Linked DNA regions of Homo sapiens. The protein of the gene in region 1 purifies or fractionates together with the protein of each later gene. This does not show direct contact. Each region holds a gene or a part of one and is shown on either strand. Other genes may lie near its edges.

Region 1 (3,827 bases):
TGGTCAATCAACCTATTTTGAATTATTTTGAAAACTGTTGGATATGGGAAATGAATGAAGAATTTGTCCTGCCCTTGTAACACAAAATAAACCTCAGGGCAACCAAGTAGTTGATTATGGAAAACTTCTTTTTATATAAATATTCTAATTAATAAGTGAGGGAGGAAAGTTAGAATTATAACAGCACCCACATTTGGTAACTCTTAATAAAACAGTGCACTTAGGCGGTCATCATAAGTAGCTTGCTAACACCACAAAAAGAGACAGTCAGCTACCGTCTACTGATTTCACCACCCTCTACGGCACCTCTACAAAATATTCTTACAAAAAGAGAAAATTGACTTGAATCTGATCAGTCCCTACAGCTGGGGTCAGCAGGCTTTTCACGTAGAGGGCCACATAATAACTGTTTTTGGCTTTGCAGGCTATACCGTCTCTCTTGCAGCCGGGCACCTCTGCTCAGCTCCCTATCATAGCACAGATGCAGCCATAAACAAAGAAAAAAGCGTGGCCAGATCTGGCCCATGGGCCGTAGCTTGCAGACCCCTGCTCTAGCTCTAACAGTTTACAGGAAGGACAGAAGACAGAGAAACTTGTTGAACAGCATGACATTAATGCAGTTAGCAAAATCTACCCTGGGGAAACTCTACAGGGCAAATAACCTGTTTTTTTCAACAGAAAAAATTCCAAGGTTAAAAATGAAGCAACTAGTGGAAGATGAAACAAACAAACAACCAAAAAAACAAAGGCAAGAGGTGTAACCAGTTGCAATGTATGGAGCTTACTTAGATCGTAATTCAAATATACTATAAAAAATGCGAACATGGACTAGATATTTGACATGTTAAGGAGTTATTTTGCGGTGTGATAATGATGTCATGGATATCTATTTTAAATCCTTAGGCTGAGTCTATATGTTGAAATTATTTTGAATGATATTATATGATGTCTGCAGTTAACTCCAAAATCATCTTTGATTTGAGTAGAAATAAACCAAGCCGTGAGTTAATAATTGTTTTTTCTGGATGTTGAGTATGGGGGGGAGTATTAAATATTTGCATATGTTTGATATTTCCCATGATATAATGTTTTTAAAAATATATGTATGTTTTATAAAACATGATCACTTTAAACCTTTTATAGAGAATGAGAGAGCATGGAGAACTTTTCCTTCATTAGACGCTTCTGTGTCCTCCCAAAATAGGTGTGCACCATCCAGCTATGAATGGACCCAGAAGAGTCTTTCCAGTGGTTTTTCCCACCAAGCTGTCTGCCTACAACTTACTTATTATGCTACATAGAGCAGACTAGTGTCATATTATTTATCATTTGTTCATGCACTATATGTAAACTTTTATTTCATAAAAAGAATTTATTAGGTAGAAAATGAGCTTCATGTTTTGTGTCTGGCTATCCTAGTTGCCACTGTTCAGTTGTTCAGCACTGGTTCCAGGCTAAGGGGTCTCGTCACAGGTGCTCACACAGCCTGGAGAGGTGATGGCAGTGGCGGCCATGGCAGGGTGTGAGGCAGCAGGGAGCAGCGGGAGCGAGGCACGCTGGAAAGTGGGTGCCCAGCCCATAAGGGGTGGCGTCTGTGCAGAACATTTGCCATGGGGGTGAGGGTCCAGTAGTACTAGAACGTCCACTCTTTTTCATTTTTCCTGAGAATAACCCTAATCTAGACTTGTGACATTTTTTGACTTTTAGTTGCTAAAAATATTTTTAGAATACTCTGTATTGCACATCAAACACTTGCTGGATTAGTCCCACGGGTCAACCTCTGATTTTGTGTCTACCAATGAATGGTAAGGCCCTAAACTGACCCTGTGGGCACCAGGAGTCTACAGTCCCTGCTTTCCGTGAGCTTCCAGTCTACTTGCGAGGAAAGAAAACATACTTGGAAAACAACTAAAATGAGACAGGCAAATAGGAAATGCTATAGGAATTCAAAGAAGAGAATAAAGAACCTCATCTTTAACAATCAGGAAAAACATCACACACACCGTGGAAGGAGTTGGGTAGAAGTGTCACTGTTGCTAGGTGGAGGCTAAGGGAGAGAAGCAGAGGCTCGGGCTTGGGTAAGCAAGCTCTTTCAACAGAAACTATGATTCTTGAAAAAGAGAAGAGTTGGTAGATTTTTGGAGACTAGTACCCCTCCCCACCAGTGGATAATTTTTCTGAACGATCAAGTGAAAACAGGTAGCAAACTGTTGAAAGTATAGCACTGCAATTCAGCAGAGAGTTTGAGGATTTGAGCTGCATATTTGAGCATCACCTGTGTAGAAGAGATGGTTGACGCCATTGGGTCTATAGAGAGTGGGTTCCTCTAATGTCTGCTATTGGCAAGCAGTCTATTTATAAATGTTAGGGTTATATTTTGAGTCTGGCATTTGCAAAACTACCATCCCATTATTTACTACGTTAAATCATGGTTAAAACTCAAAGCAGTACCCAGCTATTTCATAAACATTCCCCGTATTGGAAAGGAGAAAGGTTTGAAGTAAGAGAAACTAGAAGAACATAGGGAAGGAGATACCTGGCATTTGGAAGGATATGCCTGTGGCGATGGCTCTACTGATGGGCTTATGATCTTCCCTCCAATGATGGCCTAGAGACCTATTTTTACTGTTGTGAAACAATATTCAAGCAAATGATAATCTTCCATCTTGTTGCTATGCAGTACATTTGGGCAGCACTCTTATTTCTCTCTGATTTGAAAGTTTAAAGTGTAATTTCTCTTAAAAAGGAAAATAAACAGGAGGTTTCTATGTACTTCCCATTATGGCATCTGCTTGTTCCAGAGATCAAGCATTTCAAAGCTTGAGAACTCCAAGTTACTTCATGTAAACGATTGTCTATTTGGACATGAGTGTGTTTCATTGTTAGGAATTATGCAGGCCTAAAGTAATTTATAGATCAACACCCACTCTCCTGGCTACTGAACTTTGGAGAAAAATGAAAGCTTATTCTTAGACACGTATATAAGCCAGGTGAGTTTAGACGAGTGAGCATTTGGCCTAGGAAACCAAGGCCAAGGAGAAGTTCTGCCCAGCACATCAATCAAAAATAGCTCTGATTCCAAGTTCTGCACAGCTCTAACACTGTCCCAGTGCACTTTTATGAAACTGTACATAGACAGCTCTCAAAAACTTCCCAAGTCCAAGAAACCCAGAAAAACACCCATAACAGCTTTCTTCCGTGTCATAGGAAAACTGTTCTTTTAGCGAAAATTTATAATGAAGCAGAATTCTGCTAAATAAGATGGCTGTTTATTTGGGAGACTGTCCTTGTGACTTTAAGACATTGGAGCTGTTAGATTTCTCACTGTCACTGATCCTTTCACCCTGTTTTTACAATGTTTTATATATATATATATATATATATATATATATAATATATATAAAATATATAAAATATATTTATATATTATATAATATAATATATAATACTACATATATATAATATATATGTAGTATTTGAGTCTATCAACTTTAAGCTACCAGAGGCAAAACCAGTTTAATGTTCATGTCTTCTGAATCCAAATTCTAATATTTATTCAAATATTCACTAATCTAGGAGCATTTCTTTGGGGAGGCTTCAGGAGTACAGATTATAGTGGGCCGAATGTAGACACCAGAATAGACTATAATGCAAGAGACAACAATTGAGATGGATGAAGTTGGTCACTGCATTTGGCCATTTGTAAGAAAGATTGTACACAATGTTTTATACTTATGATGACTTTGTGCTATATTAAATTTTAAAGAGGATATTTATTGCTCAAAAGAAAGAAAAGGCAAGAGGGAGGAAGGAAGGGGAGAACACAG
Region 2 (3,827 bases), on another chromosome or scaffold:
TTGAGATTAGGGAGTGGTGATGACTCTTAGGGAGCATGCTGCCTCCAAGCATCTGTTTAACAAAGCACATCTTGCACCACCCTTAATCCATTTAACCCTGAGTGAACACAGCACATGTTTCAGAGAGCACAGGGTTGGGGGTAAGGTCATAGATCAACAGCATCCCAAGGCAGAATTTTTCTTAGTACAGAACAAAATAGAGTCTCCCATGTCTACTTCTTTCTACACAGACACAGCAACAATCTGATTTCTCTATCTTTTCCCCACCTCTCCCCCTTTTCTATTCCACAAAACCGCCGTCGTCATCATGGCCCGTTCTCAATGAGCTGTTGGGTACACCTCCCAGACGGGGTGGTGGCTAGGCAGAGGGGCTCCTCACTTCCCAGTAGGGGCGGCCAGGCAGAGGCGCCCCTCACCTCCCGGATGGGGCGGCTGGCCGGGCAGGGGGCTGACCCCCCCACCTCCCTCCCGGACGGGGCGGCTGGCCGGGCAGAGGGGCTCTTCACTTCCCAGTAGGGGCGGCCGGGCAGAGGCGCCCCTCACCTCCCGGACGGGGTCGCAGCCGGGCAGAGGCGCTCCTCACATCCCAGACGGGGCGGCGGGACAAAGGCGCTCCCCACATCTCAGACGATGGGCGGCCGGGCAGAGACGCTCCTCACTTCCTAGATGGGATGGCGGCCGGGAAGAGGTGCTCCTCACTTCCCAGACTGGGCAGCCGGGCAGAGGGGCTCCTCACATCCCAGACGAAGGGTGGCCGGGCAGAGACGCTTCTCACTTCCCAGACGGGGTGGCGGCCGGGCAGAGGCTGCAGTCTCGGCACTTTGGGAGGCCAAGGCAGGCGGCTGGGAGGTGGAGGTTGTAGTGAGCCGAGATCACGCCACTGCACTCCAGCCTGGGCAACATTGAGCACTGAGTGAATGAGACTCCGTCTGCAATCCCGGCACCTCAGGAGGCCGAGGCTGGTGGATCACTCGCGGTTAGGAGCTGGAGACCAGCCCGGCCAACACAGCGAAACCCCGTCTCCACCAAAAAAATACGAAAACCAGTCAGGCGTGGCGGCGCGCGCCTGCAATCGCAGGCACTCGGCAGGCTGAGGCAGGAGAATCAGGCAGGGAGGTTGCAGTGAGCCGAGATGGCGGCAGTACAGTCCAGCCTTGGCTCGGCATCAGAGGGAGACCGTGGGGAGGGGGAGGGGGGAGAGGGAGACCGTGGGGAGGGGGAGGGGGAGGGGGGAAGAGGGAGAGGGCTCTTTTCTTTTCTCTCTACCTGTTTTAGTTTTTTAAGTCTGTTATATGTTAGCAACATTGAATTACGTTAATATATGAATTATGCTCTCAGTTTGTATGTCAGATAAGTTACAAACAAAAAAGGCATACTCAGAAGAAAACGTAGAGGTTGTAGGTCTGGAAGGGGTTGACAATCACACCCTCATTTGTTTGCAGTATGTTGCCATGCATTGCACTTTTACTTAAGCTAGGTTAAGTAGCTTTACGGGTTATATTATCTTAAATAACAGTCTCTATATTACTTTGTAAGGAGAGGTAGAGTAACCAAGAATAGTTCTTTTACCTCACAGGAGTGATCGAACTTAAAAGATGAGTTAGAAAGTGTTTGAGATTCGTCCTTTTCAGAAATAACAAGTAGCATTAGATAGTATGATACTTAGAAAATATTTTCAGAAAAAATAAAAACTTAAGTCTTTGATGTAAACATGAGTGAGAAAGTTAAGTGCTTTTTTGAAGGAAATTGATGCTTGGAGCAGAGTTTGGCACATATTTTCCTGCAAAAGTTCAGATCGCAAATCTTTGCAGCTTTTCAGGCAATGCACTCCCTATTGGAGCGACTCAACTCCCATTGTAGCAGGAAAGCAGCCATAGGCAAACATACATGAATGGATGTGGCTGTGTTCCAGTAAAACTTCATTTACAGAAATGGGGATTAGGCTGGATATACTTTGCCAACCCTTGCTATAGTGAAAGCATTTTGAATATATATTTTTAGAAATGCTTCTTTCATCATTATATGATTTTACCCAAAATAAGTAGAACTTGAAATCTTTGAATCACTTTATTACAAAATATTAAAACCAAGACTTTTTAAAATAATGAAATTTATTTAGTTACATTTTCACTGAGAGATATTATCAATATTAATTTTTAGTGAGAGCCAAAAGGTTTTTTCTACCCACTAATAAATAAAATGTATTATTTAAATATTATTTATTTCATTTATATCTTATCCCATTAAGTTAACTTTTATATTTTATAATTTACATAATCTATGAGAACATCATACATATATATTATATAAATAAATGACTTAGCTTGGGAATTATTGGGGTTTTTTCCTGAAGGTAGAGCACTGATCCAAATACTGTTTTGGAGATTTTAGATGAGTTTTAACCTTTGCTCTGCAAGTTCTCTGAATACTTGTGTAATTATAAAAACAGTATTTGTATAAACTTAACAGGGGACAGGTTGTACACATATACCCAGACAGCTAATCTCTGCTGTTTGTACTTGTTCAAAATGACACTATTTCTCCTAAAGATAAATTTAGTCATTCTTGTGAGATGTAAATGTTTATGCTTCTCAGTCACTAAGTATTTTACTTCATGTTTTAATTCTTTCTGTAATTATTTCTTAGTCTATCCCTTCATAATTGTAGCTCTAATTTTAAAATGTTTTCCCTAATTATAAAATTATGCAAATGTATAAAAAGCATTTTTTCTGTGTTTTTTTTTTAATTAGGATTATACTATCTAAACAATTTTGTAACCTGCCTTTTTCCCGTTTGTAGTAGTATTATGGTGTATGTACTCTACCTCCCTGCCTACTGCCATGTTTCAGCCATACTTTTTTCCAGAAGATATTTTAAAAGCTCTACATAAATGTGTACAATGTAACAAAATAGAATAAATTAAAAGTGGTTATTACATTTTTTTTTTAATGGAGTCTTGCTCTGTCACCCATGCTGGAGTGCAGTGGTGCGATCCTAGCTCACTGCAACCTCTGCCTCCTGGGTTGAAGCAATTCTGCCCCAGCCTCCTGAGTAGTTGGGATTACAGGTGCACACCACCACACCCAGCTATTTTTGCGTTTAGTAGAGATGGGGTTTCACCATGTTGGTCAGGCTGGTCTCAAACTTCTGACCTCAGGTGATCCTCTCGCCTCGGCCTCCCAGAGTGTTGAGATTACAGGCGTGAGCTACTGTGCCTGGCCAAATGTCTTTTGATAACATGATTTATAATGGCTTTACAATATGCCAGCTTGTAGATTTACCATAATTTATTTAATCACTGCCAATCATTAGATATTTAGGTTGTTGTCAGTTTATTTCATTTCAATAAATGAGGCTGTGATAAATATCCTTATACATAATCTCTGTTTACATCACTGATACTTTTCTCAAAAAATCTATATAAAATTCCTAGATCAAAAAATATAAACATTCTTAATATATTAATGCCAAATTGTATTATAGAAAAAGTACATTTAGTTGCTTAGAGAAGAAATTCTTAGTTTCACTATAGAGCATTCTCTTAGTGTCTTTTACTGAAATCTTTTGTTCACAGAAAATATCCCTGTTAGTATATCCTCTTTTATTACTTTGTTGGATGTTTAATAAGTCAAGGATTATAAATTATAAATAATATATATTAAATAGGTAAATATTAGTTTTTTTCCTCTCAAAGAAATTCCTTAGATATTAAAGATTTTACTCAGTGGAACTAAACTTTCCTGCCTCATCAGTTATTATTGCCCATTATTAATTGAAAGTTATATTCGTGTTTAAAATTTATATGTATTATATTTCTAATAGACTTG

The links.
Region 2: the proteins of SERPINE2 (region 1) and AGL fractionate together in Homo sapiens (co-fractionation; one large-scale study listed by BioGRID). This does not show direct contact.

What each region holds. Positions count from the first base shown.
Region 1 is NC_000002.12:224,004,632-224,008,458, reverse strand, and holds part of SERPINE2 (glia-derived nexin isoform b precursor), read left to right. Parts: intron 1-3,827. UniProt on the Homo sapiens protein: Serine protease inhibitor with activity toward thrombin, trypsin, and urokinase. Promotes neurite extension by inhibiting thrombin. Binds heparin.
Region 2 is NC_000001.11:99,856,621-99,860,447, forward strand, and holds part of AGL (glycogen debranching enzyme), read left to right. Parts: intron 1-3,827. UniProt on the Homo sapiens protein: Multifunctional enzyme acting as 1,4-alpha-D-glucan:1,4-alpha-D-glucan 4-alpha-D-glycosyltransferase and amylo-1,6-glucosidase in glycogen degradation.